Homo sapiens: one gene and its partner. The protein of the gene in region 1 interacts with the protein of each later gene in a biochemical or structural test. Each region holds a gene or a part of one and is shown on either strand. Other genes may lie near its edges. The genes, in order: USP32 and RAB35.

Region 1 (7,291 bases):
TATTTGTCTCTGAGATCCATAATAGCAATTGATCACCATGGACAGTACTATCTTTCAAAGATTATTGTTACATATAAAGATTACATGTTACAAAGATTATATGTTACATTATAAACTAATGGTGTGGCCGAGCACAGTGGCTCACGCCTGTAATCCCATCACTTTGGGAGGCCGAGGTGGCTGGAGCACCAGAGGTCAGGAGTTTGAGACCAGCCTGGCCAACGTGGTGAAACCCTGTCTCTACTAAAAATACAAAAATTAGCTGGGCATGGCGGTGGGAGCCTGTAGTCCCAGCTACTCAGAAGGCTGAGGCAGGAGAATTGCTTGAACCCAGAGGCAGAGGTTGCAGTGAGCCAAGATAGTGCCACTATACTCCAGCCTGGGCAACAGAGCCAGACTCCATCTTTAAAAAAAAAAAAAACAAAAAACAAAACGTATTCATGTAACCAAACACCACCTGTTCCCCAAAAACCTATTGAAATTTTAAAAAAGAGAAAGATAACGCTTATGAAGTACACATTGTCTTTCTGTCATACTGCCACCTAAGTTATAAATATTTATGAACAACTATAGTAGGCCAGATATTTGTGATATGTTATATAACTACAAAGAAGTTGTTTTTTTAATTGTTACTCATTTTTATCTCTGTATTTGTTTCAAGTTTACTAACCAAATAACAAAAACATTTCCTCCTCCTTACACAGAACTACCTTACTCTTCTGGATGATGAGGATCATAAATTGGAATATTTGAAAATCCAGGATGAACAACACCTGGTAATTGAAGGTACAAGATGGAAGCATGCATCTATATTAAATTTTCAAGGGGAAGAATTTAAAGAGTTACTAATAACCCATTTTATAATTTTCTCCAAAACAACTATTATTTGATTATTATGTTTTTATGATAAAGAAACCCTTTGGAAAAAAAAGAAAAAGAAAACCCTTTGAACTCTTATGTAATCCTACCATACAATTTAGATTGCTTTAAAGGGAAAATATTCTGTTTTTAGTCATTGACTGACAAAGAATGGGAATGGTAGATAAAAAACAAGTGAATTCAGTTTACACATTTATAGTTCCTTAAAATTTTCAAGTTGCTGCTTTGAGTTTGAGTAAAAAGAACAACTTTCTTGCATAGTTAGTAGCACAGGCTTTCATTAGTCACCAACATTGGCTACTCACTGACAGAGCTATTTGTATATTCATAGATTTACACACTGGCATGCACATGCCATTAAAAACTTTTTAAGTGTATCTTTTCCCATCAAGTTTTGTGGCAACATTGTTAGCTGCCTTTGTATTAAAATGAATAGGCCGGGCGCAGTGGCTCACGCCTGTAATCCCAGCACTTTGGGAGGCTGAGATGGGTGGATCACTTGAGGTCAGGAGTTCCAGACCAGCCTGGACAACATGGTGAAATCTGTCTCTGCTAAAAATACAAAAATTAGCTGGGTGTGGTGGCACGTGCCTGTAGTCCCAGCTACTCAGGAAGCTGAGGCACGAGAATCAGTCAAGCCCAGGAGGCGGAGGTTGCAGTGACTCAAGATCACATCACTGCACTCCAACCTGGGGGGACAAAGCCAGACTGTCTCAAAAAAAAAAAAAGGAATAAATTACTCTGACAGTTGTTACAATTTAAGAAAGAATTGTAATTTCTAATGTTTTAAGTATAAGAAATTCCATTGTTTCTGAACTTTAATTACTTCTGTAGATGGTTGAGTATAATTTTACTTCAAGTAGGTAATTGAGGGATAAGATTATTCAAACCAAGTGACTTTAAAGTCCTCAATATGAAGAGTAGGAATGGTTTTAGAGCCAATTACAGGCATGTGCTGCAAAAAGATGTTTGTCAACAAAAGACCTGTATACAGCAGTGGTCCCATAAGATTATAATACTGTATTTTTAGTTGTGCCTTTTCTATGTTCTAACATGTTTAGATACACAAATACTTACCATTGTGTTACACTTGCCTACAGTATTCAATGCAGTAACATACTGTACAGGTTTGTAGCCAAGGAGCGACAGCCTATACCATACATAGCCTAGGTTTGTGTAGGTACACTCTGTGATGTTCACACAAAGACAAAATCACCTAATGATGCATTTCTCAGAATATAACCTCGTCGTTAAGCAATGTATGTACTAAAATTAACTAGATTTTAAAACTTCTGATTTAGGAATAAGATGTCTTTAAAAAAAAAAAGCAATCGAATGGGTATAAATTAGATAGATAAGAAATTAACACATTCCTATCTGTCCTTCCAGTTCGCAACAAAGATATGAGTTGGCCTGAGGAGATGTCTTTTATAGCAAATAGTAGTAAAATAGATAGACACAAGGGTAAGTCTCCAGTATTATTTTTTAAAGAGATTATTTTAAATGTATTCTTTTTTTTTCTTCTCTCAACTGTTAAAGTGCTAACAACTTTTGGTTTTCTAGTTCAAAAGTAATTAGGGCCTTCTTCTTTTTCTTTTTTCCTGAAGCAGCATTTGATGTTGGCAAACCCACCATCAAATTATTTTCTAAATTTCTTTCTAACTCTGCAATTAAATAATTTATATGTTTTAAAAGACATACTAGAAGAAGAATTGTTTGAATTATTTTGAAAAATCATAGCAATTAAAAAGAATAATTGCTGCTTCTGGGTTACAAATGAGCATGGATCATCACTGTTGCCAGACACTCCATGAAAAGCCTTCTCTAGCATTTCAGAGACCTGCTAGAGAATTATTAGCACCATTTAGCTGATTATGAGAGTTATAAAAAACCTTTTCATTGAATATAAGTAACTGTTTGTGCCATGGCATATTACTACAGCTAAGCTTTGGTTCTCATATTGTTTGTTCCAGTTCCCACAGAAAAGGGAGCCACAGGTCTAAGCAATCTGGGAAACACATGCTTCATGAACTCAAGCATCCAGTGTGTTAGTAACACACAGCCACTGACACAGTATTTTATCTCAGGGAGACATCTTTATGAACTCAACAGGTAATCTTTCTGGAGTCACTGGCCTCTTAACCTGTGACTTTGATATAAACCCAATATCACCTAAATTTCCTCTTTTTTCACCCTGTGGGAGAAAGATTTTATCTTATTTGCCCTATTTAATATGAAATAGGCCAAGGAATACATCTCTTGTTTCAAAAAGAAAAGATATTTTGATGTGAGATGCTAGGCATTTTTGCGCCCACATGATTGTGATTTATGAGAATCTTTGGCAACAAATTTTCCTCTCAAACTTCTAGGACAAATCCCATTGGTATGAAGGGGCATATGGCTAAATGCTATGGTGATTTAGTGCAGGAACTTTGGAGTGGAACTCAGAAGAATGTTGCCCCATTAAAGCTTCGGGTAAGCAGGTTAAAATAATATAAAAGTATTTAATTCCTAATAGTTGTTTAATCATTTTTCTCTGCTTGTTTTTTGTGTTTAGCCTTTTAACTTAATAAATGTTTTTGGATCCTTCACTTGGTATAAACAAAAGGTCAAATTCTTTTGCTTGTTTAAATATATGCAAAATTACTACTGTATATGTAGTGGGTAGGATAAAGACCAAAGGTACACTCTAAATTCGGGATGTCATTCATTTTACTAATTTGTCAAACATCTTATATGAAGAGTAAACCTTTTTTGGTAATACTTCACTATTAGCAGTATTCTAACTGCAAGGTGGACCTCAGAGTCTTATTAATTACATCCAATCCAATCCATTTTCAACGTAACTAAGATAGTTCTATCTGTAGAATACAAAGAAGTAGGCTGGGCGCAGGGGCTCACGCCTGTAATCTCAGCACTTTGGGAGGCCGAGGTGGGTGGATCACTTGAGGCCAGGAGTTCAAGACCAGCCTGGACAAGATGGCGAAACCCTGTCTCTACTAAAAAAAATTAGCCGGGCATAGTGGTGCATGCTTGTAATCCCAGCTACTTGGGAGGCTGAGGCACGAGAAACGCTTGAACCTGGGAGGTGGTGTTTGCAATGAGCCAAGATCGCACCACTGTACTCCAGCCTGGGCAACAGAGTAAGACTCTGTCTCCAAAAAGAAAAAAAAAAAGTAGAAGGATGAATGAATGAAACTAATGAATATAAGTTTTATATTAATATCAGATGTAGTAGATTTTAGTGAAGTTAGGATTATTCATTATTTTTATTTAAATACAAAGCAAAAGCTTTTTATATTACAAATTATTAACTATAACAGCTACACATTTGACTACTTACCTCTTGCCAGGCACTATTCTAATTAATTTATATCCTCAAAATAATTCTATAATATAATGCAGTTAATAAAATTTAGGATGCAACAAGACCAGAAAATGTAATTGTTGAAGACAACATTATATTATATAAAATAATGTATACACATATTATTTTATACATGTTATGTATTATTATATACACATTATTTTATGCATATGTTATGTATATACTATGTACCTATAAAATATACATATTTTATATGCATATAAAAATGTAAAACGTTATAGAACAGGATGTCTTTCAATGTGAGCAAACGCTGTTTTAATGTTTCTGTCTTAAATAACATCTGTGTGCCTGAAGAACAGTTTGCTTACATAATACTGAACTGAGGACACAGTATTGCACAGTATTGGCCAAAATACTTCTCTTTTTTTGGGGGGGGTCATTTGACATTAAGATTCAAAAGATTTCATGATTATCCAAAATATATTTGTTGAAATAGAGGCAGACTAAGTACTATACTATTTATTTTCTTACAATGGCTCTGATTGGATTATAGGACATGTTCATTCCAAATTTTATGGGTAGGAAATAATGACTGTGACTTCTCTTATATTTATAGTGGACCATAGCAAAATATGCTCCCAGGTTTAATGGGTTTCAGCAACAGGACTCCCAAGAACTTCTGGCTTTTCTCTTGGATGGTCTTCATGAAGATCTTAATCGAGTCCATGAAAAGCCATATGTGGAACTGAAGGACAGTGATGGGCGACCAGACTGGGAAGTAGCTGCAGAGGTTTGTCAGTTTTGAGTTTCTAATGTAAGCAATAGACAAAATGTTCTGGCCACAAATACATGTAGCACAACTTAAATGCAAACTCAACTATTCTGAGATCAGAACTTTACTGCAAAAATGAATGAATTTCTATTTCTGTGCTTAATTCTTATGCAATAATGCCAAAACAAAAATACGTTTAATGAAAATAGAAAACTGTTGCCATTTCATATTGTAAACTTTATGGGACTGGATGTAGGAATAATTATCCAGTGGAATTTAAAGAGTCCCCGTAATTGCTAAAGTAATGGATACAGTGACCTATAGGCATGCTTTATACTTGTTAATGGACAAATAACTTTAATATTTACCATTGTTACCTTGATAAGAACAAATGAAAAATAGGATTTTCCATCTCAATTTAATATTTTATGTTAAATGAAGAGTAAGGATTATATTCTTTACATTTAAATCCAATATATTTAACTAGCTTCTTTGAATTTATATAGAAATGCTTCTCTTTTGGATTTTGAGAGAAAATTCTCATCTTTTTTATTGCTAGGCCTGGGACAACCATCTAAGAAGAAATAGATCAATTGTTGTGGATTTGTTCCATGGGCAGCTAAGATCTCAAGTAAAATGCAAGACATGTGGGCATATAAGTGTCCGATTTGACCCTTTCAATTTTTTGTCTTTGCCACTACCAATGGACAGTTATATGCACTTAGAAATAACAGGTAGGTCAGAAAGTTCTGAAAAATTACTTGACTCCATTAAATTTACTTTATTTAAATAGCCTGAATTTGTAAGCATAGTTATTTGTTTACAAATAAAGACCGGTAGTCAGCATATTATAATTGAGCAACCTAATTTTAGGCATGACTTGAGGTTTGAAAGATGTAGACTGGGGCATGTTTTTTTGGTTTCAAATATGCCAGCAACTCTCTTTAAAACCCTGCAAAGCCACTGATACTTTTATGTCAGATGAACACCAAAAAAATACTGATTTCACTTAATATTATCCCTAAGTACCATCTGTTTTAGTGTTTACACATAAAATAAAAATTCTAGGCTGAAATATTTGCTATTATATTTACAGGTCAGATATATCTGTACACAGCATTTAAGACTTTCAATGAAACCTGCATTTTACCAATAAAAGATCTTTTCTCTTTACTAGTGATTAAGTTAGATGGTACTACCCCTGTACGGTATGGACTAAGACTGAATATGGATGAAAAGTACACAGGTTTAAAAAAACAGCTGAGTGATCTCTGTGGACTTAATTCAGAACAAATCCTTCTAGCAGAAGTACATGGTTCCAACATAAAGGTAATATTAACTACTCTAAGAAACTTTTGATTCTATCCTCCAAAGATGACATTTTTCTCAATTATTATGATCAATTGTTAGGTTATGTGACCAAGAGAGATACTAAAACATAACGAAAACTGAACAACAACAACAAAAAATGCCAAGTTTTCCAACCCAGAAACTTAAGAGTTTTCTACCAGAATAAAGGGATAATACTGATGGTGGTATTTTTGAAGAAGGGAAATACGTAAGGCTGCCTATATGGAGTGTTCTAGCTGTGTCACTATAGTATAGGTTTCCACCAAAGACTGCTGCTGTTACCAAAGACTGCTGCTATTACCCTTGACAACTCTTCTGTATTACCGCTGTTACTAGAATTCTTCCTAGGTTAAAGTATTTTATGTATTTATGAATGTGTGTTTTTAGTATTTATGAATATATATACTTGGTCTTTTAACACACTAAGAAATTAAGAGTAAAGACAAATTGACACCAATCATGTCTTTCTACATACCAGCTGGGGAAACAAATAATCTAATAAATATATTGCCTACTCTAAATTAAGCTCCTGCAACTGGTATTATTTATATTCATCTTTGGGATTTCTGAACACACTCTCACCTCACTGACAGTTTCTTAATATGAAATGCAAAAATGGAGTCTCTGAGGGTTGGAATTTAGATCCCTGAAACGGACAAAACTGAAGTCAGTCGTATATAACACACTTCTTCCTGTGAAAAGAGATAATAGTTCGAAAATTGAGGTTAGTTTTCCGTTATTTTTATCAAGCATTCATCCTTTATGTAGTTGAAAAATTATTCAATCATCTCGTTGGTTTTACGGATGAAAGCGCCTAAGACATTCTTTTGAAATATGTTAGAGAGAGAACTTTTCCATTTTATCTGAAACATCTCCCCCTTCTCATCTTGCTTCTGTTTCTGTAGAACTTTCCTCAGGACAACCAAAAAGTACGACTCTCAGTGAGTGGATTTTTGTGTGCA
Region 2 (5,446 bases), on another chromosome or scaffold:
CGGGGCTGCCGCCTGGCCTCCGGCTCTTCGACAGCTCTCGGGGAAGCGGAGGCTGTGGTCCCCCTCCTCCTCCGGGGATTGATGTCGTCCTGTGCCACTGGGATGAATGGGGACATGGGGTCTGGAGAGGAGAGTTGGGCCTCCCCTTCCTTCTGGCCTTCCTGGCTGGCCCTGGGCTCTGCATGTTTGGGGTGATGGCTTTGCTGGGCGCCCTCTCCCCAGCCATCCCTGGATGCTTGTGTGGCTTCCATGCTTTTCCTGCCACCTGCACAGATGAGCCAAGAGTAGCAGGAAGGGAGGTGCCTACCTGCCCCAGGGGAGGGGCACAGACTTTGCCAGGGCGTCATGATGGTGTGGCTTCTTGGAAAGGTTCTCTAAAACAGGTTTGAGGAGCAAATATTTTTTTGAATGTTCAAAGACAGTGATAACATGATGTCAAATACAAAAACTGCCTGATTTCCCAAAATAAAGCAAGAACTTCAAAGATGTTTCAAGCCTGCAGCAGACTCTGAACAGCAGGAGGTGACTCCTCAGACCTGCTCTGCTGCCCAGGGGCTGGCCCTCCCGCCCTGTTGGTGCCCCGGGCGGGCAGGGGGAGTCAGTGCTGCCGCAGTAGCCTCTCCTGCTGGCCTGTTGTGGCTCGGGGGCATCTGCCGAGGCTGAGTGAGAGCCCAGGCTCCAGGGCCACCCTCACCTTTTCCGGGTCAGTGTCCTGACGTGGGCAGGTGGGTCCCGGCAAGGGGGTGACTCCTGTCGGGGTTGACATGCTGCCGCACACTCTGGCCCTGCAGGTATTATCGGGGGACCCACGGGGTCATTGTGGTTTACGACGTCACCAGTGCCGAGTCCTTTGTCAACGTCAAGCGGTGGCTTCACGAAATCAACCAGAACTGTGATGATGTGTGCCGAATATTAGGTGAGGCTGCACTCAGGGCCGGGTCGGGGTTGGGTGGGAGAGAGGCAGCCGGCTGCGCCCCTCAGGGCTGCGCTGACTCTGCCTTCGTTTGAAGTGGGTAATAAGAATGACGACCCTGAGCGGAAGGTGGTGGAGACGGAAGATGCCTACAAATTCGCCGGGCAGATGGGCATCCAGTTGTTCGAGACCAGCGCCAAGGAGAATGTCAACGTGGAAGAGGTGAGGCCCTGGGCCACTGTGGCTCTGCCACACACCCGTGGCCGCCTTCTCCATGCTGCTGGCCTGCTTGAGGCATCTAAATGACCAACAGAAAATGTCATAGTAACTGCCATTTATTGAGTGCCTACTATGTGCCAGGCCCTTTAACGATCTTAGTTCATAGTTCAACAGTCCTCTGAGGTAGGTACAATTATACCCACATTTCAAATAGGGAAACTGAGGCTCCAAGTGTTGAAGTAACTCAAGGACCACCACCTGGCTAGTAAGAGACTGAGTAAACCTCTGTCCCACACCAAAGCCAAGCACAGTTTCCACTCCAGTCCTCTGCCTCATTGGCCGCCTTGTGCTGTGTGGAGCCCAGAGGCCTGTGGAAGTCGAGGATCCCACTGCTTCAGGGCACAGGGGCCACACAGCAGCGGGCACAGGCTCCTTTGTAAGTCAGGCTGGTGTCCTGATGCTGGCCCATCCACCTGGGCCTGTGGGCAAGGCTGGTATGACCTTGGGCGGTGACTTCACCTCTCTGGGCCCCACATGCCATGAAGTGGCGTGGAGCAGGCAGACCCCGGGTCACCTATGTCCGTGAACAGCAGGGGCACTTTCATCTGTCATGTCATAAGATTCCAGCTGGGCCGGGCGCGCCGGCTCACGCCTGTAATCTCAGTGCTTTGGGAGGCCGAGGCGGGCGGATCACGAGGTCAGGAGATCGAGACCATCCTGGCTAACATGGTGGAACCCTGTCTCTACTAAAAATACAAAAAAATTAGCCGGGCGTGGTGGTGGGCGCCTGTAGTCCCAGCTACTCGGGAGGCTGAGGCAGGAGAATGGTGTGAACCAGGGAGGCAGAGTTTGCAGTGAGCTGAGATCACGCCACTGCACTCCAGCCTGGGCGACAGAGCGAGACTCCATCTCACAAAAAAAAAAAAAAAAAAAAGATTCCAGCTGAAGGAAAGGGGTTGGTCTCTCTAAAAGAAGGACTGGAAAACCCCTGTGAGATTGACTTCCCCAAGTCCACACAGCTCATGGGCCTCTGATGGTGTTCCTTTTTTCAGACTTATTTATTTGTTGAGTCAGGGTCTAACTCTGTCATCCAGGCTGGAGTGCAGTGGTGTGTTCACAGCCCACTGTAGTCTCGATCTCCTGGGCTCAAGTAATCCTCCCACCTTAGCTTCTCAAGTAGCTGGGACTACAGGTGTGCACCACCACTCCCGGCTAATTTTTGTGTTTTTTGTAGAGGTGGGGTTTTAGCAATGTTGTTCCTTTTTGACCTTTAAATAAAATAATTCACCACCTCCTTCTAGAATAGGCTTTGAAGACATACATACCAAAAATGCACAGGTAGAAAGAGCTGGGCCCCGGAAGGCGGGGAGGCAGCCGTGCAGGCCAGCAGGGGCCTCCTGGCCAGGTCTGAGGCGGGCCCTTCCTCTTTCCTCTCCACAGATGTTCAACTGCATCACGGAGCTGGTCCTCCGAGCAAAGAAAGACAACCTGGCAAAACAGCAGCAGCAACAACAGAACGATGTGGTGAAGCTCACGAAGAACAGTAAACGAAAGAAACGCTGCTGCTAATGGCACCCAGTCCACTGCAGAGACTGCACTGCGGTCCCTCCCCCAGCCCGAGGCCCACGGAGGTTCCTCGGGGGACAGTCTCAGTTTCGTGCCGTTATTTAAAGAATTCTCTCCATGTTTTTGTATCGGGAGGTGCCATCGGCACTTCCTCCCCCGCCCTCCTCGAGTGCCAAGAAGGTGTTGGACCAGCCCGCCCTTCCCTACTGGTGCCCCCTCCTCCCCGGCCAAGGCGCCTGGACCTGGCGAGGACGCTGCCCGCCGAGCGGACTGATTCGCAGAGTCTGTACATAGTGTATATTGCTCTACCCGGCCGCACACCACGTCCTGCTCTGGCTTTTGCCTTCTTGATGCCAGCCTGCTGCAACAGACCCTCCCCGCGCCCCTCCCCAGCCCATCTTACTGCAAGCAGCGTCCTGAGGAGACAGCGGCACGTTCTAGCTGCGTCTGCGGCCAGCCCGTGCCAGTGGAGTGGGCTCCGCGTTGCTCATTCTCTCCGACAGGTTGTCAGCCTCTGTCCCCGCTGCACAGGGTCTTGCCCCTTCTCCGGGGCCTGTGCCAGCTCCCTTCCCTCCCCGTTGTCCTGTCCCCACAGCCATTCTGGGAGCTGGGGAACCTGGTCTCAAGGCAGGCCCTGCAGTTCCACAGAGGTGGCAGGTCTTGCCCTTTGGCCAACAGATTTCTTGTCCTGCCTTCTAGATGCCTCTGAGCTCCAAACCCAGGGCAGCCATGGCTTCTCATTTACACCAACAGGTTTCAGTTCCAACAGAAAGGTCGGGGTAGGTTCGTGCAGAGATGGGGCTGGCAGGGGGGCTATGGGAGGATTATTTTAACAGATCAAGAAAATGAAGCCAAATCAAGTGAATTAAATTCCTCACAATTATTTTCTTTCCCTGAGGTTTGATTGGCACAGCAGCAAAAGTTGAGGCCACCCCACTTGTGTCCACTGTTTTTAGAAAAAAATGAATGGCTTCCTGCCATTGTGGGGCTGGACTCTTGGGCTTTCTTGGTGGGAGCGGAGAAGGGGCCTCCCACCCTTGTCCGAGTTGCCTCCCACTGGAGGTCAGGAGTCTACACTGCAGCCTCGGGCACTGTGGGGAGTGCATGCCTGGGGCCTCTGGGTGGGGACCATGGACAGGCCCTGGTCACTGTCCTAACCTTTGTCAGGACAAAGGTAGCAAGAGGATTTCCTGGCGGGTGGGAAGGAATGGCTGGGGCGGCCAGTTTTGACACGCCCCAGTGCCCTGGAGAACAACCAGGGTCATCTGCACTTGATGACTGCTCCCCGACCCCCAGCCCGGACACCTCATTCCCCTCCCACTACAGGGATCAAGTGACCTGGGAAGAACCGAGTTTAACACCAGGATGTGTTTCCTTAGATTTCCTTTCCTAGGCGATTTCCAGGGAGAGCCCTGATTGGACAATCACATCACAGATCACACTGCAGTTTCCATGTTAGCACTGTGGATGGGTTTTTAATCAATAAAAACTGGGGGTTTCTTCTCACCGACTCTCCACTTGCCCAAACTGCCAAAAGCTGGTGATTCTGGGACAGGCCTTCACTTTGGAGCCACGGGATGGGGTGGGGGAGCCCCATGGGCCTGGGAAGGAGGGTGCTGTGGAGGGGGCTGCAGGGCTGACCAGCAGGCAGCCTCATCTGGTCGGGGGCGGGGGCGGCAGGAGCAGAAGCGGGGTCTCCGTCCTTGGGACTGTCCTGGTTGGCCACGGGCCCTGAGGATGCACGGTGCCTGGGGCTCCTGTGCCGGTGGGCGGGGGGCATGCTGGCCTCTGAGCGATCAGGCGAGGCCAGCGAGGGTGTGCTTGCAAATTCAAGCAATAAGAGGGGGGTTCCTGGGGGCTTCCAGCCCAGGCTAGAAGCCCCCATGGCTTCTGGCAGCTGGACATCAGCCCCAGGTATTGGGGTGATTTTGGTCATGACAGTGTGCCTGTCCCACTGTTACACGCATGAATGGGGGTTATGGGGTGGGGGTGGGGACTCAGGGCTGGACCGACGTCCTAGTGGACCTGATGTGAAATTCCTGTCAAACAAACACCACTTTTCAATGGTTTGCTAGGAGTATTTCTGTATTGAAAGTTTCTAATTATGCTTTTTAAAAAAATACTAAAAATAAAGGTTCAAGCTGCCAAATTTTCTTCCAGGGTCTGTTTGCTCTCCCTCCAGAGATGTGCTGAGTGGCCGTGGCTTCTTCCCACCCACCGTGTCCTGCTCTTCCCTGTTCTTGGCCTAAGTCTTGCACAGGAGCCTGTCGAGGCCCTTGGGACACTTCCAGAAGCCAGGTCCATTTTCTCCATGAACAGGTGGGCCAGGGTTGAGTCTCCCCCTAGTTGGACTGGGAGCACATGTGGTAAGATGCCAGGGGAAGCTCCGTGTTTATCCTCCACATGCCTGGAAGGATGCAGTGGAAGCCTTTGCCTGGCGTGGTTTCTTTCTGGCTTGAAGTTTCTGCCAAGCTTTAGGGCCCTGCTGGCCTGGGAAGCAGCGTTGGCAGGCCTGCCTTGCGGATGGCACGCTGCAGCACTGGCAGGGGGCAGTGCCAGGCGGGAGGGGCAGGGGAGGATGCCCTTCCTGGCCAAATCCCTTGGTTAAGTAAGTACCAGCATCTGAGGTGGCCCGGGTGCAGGGGAACCACTATTGCTACCTCTCCAGCAGCAGCCAGTGGTGAGTCTGACATGTCAGCTGCATTCAGACCAAACCCGCCCCCCGCAAATACCCAGAGACTGAGGCAG

The links.
Region 2: the proteins of USP32 (region 1) and RAB35 form a complex in vitro, tested with the Homo sapiens proteins (one study listed by BioGRID).

Annotation. Positions count from the first base shown.
Region 1 is NC_000017.11:60,207,076-60,214,366, reverse strand, and holds part of USP32 (ubiquitin carboxyl-terminal hydrolase 32), read left to right. Parts: intron 1-704; coding exon 705-786; intron 787-2,268; coding exon 2,269-2,343; intron 2,344-2,852; coding exon 2,853-2,991; intron 2,992-3,248; coding exon 3,249-3,354; intron 3,355-4,823; coding exon 4,824-4,997; intron 4,998-5,538; coding exon 5,539-5,713; intron 5,714-6,156; coding exon 6,157-6,308; intron 6,309-7,234; coding exon 7,235-7,291. UniProt on the Homo sapiens protein: Deubiquitinase that can remove conjugated ubiquitin from target proteins, such as RAB7A and LAMTOR1.
Region 2 is NC_000012.12:120,094,500-120,099,945, reverse strand, and holds the end of RAB35 (ras-related protein Rab-35), read left to right. Parts: intron 1-791; coding exon 792-916; intron 917-1,010; coding exon 1,011-1,135; intron 1,136-2,572; coding exon 2,573-2,701; 3' UTR 2,702-4,847; downstream 4,848-5,446. UniProt on the Homo sapiens protein: The small GTPases Rab are key regulators of intracellular membrane trafficking, from the formation of transport vesicles to their fusion with membranes.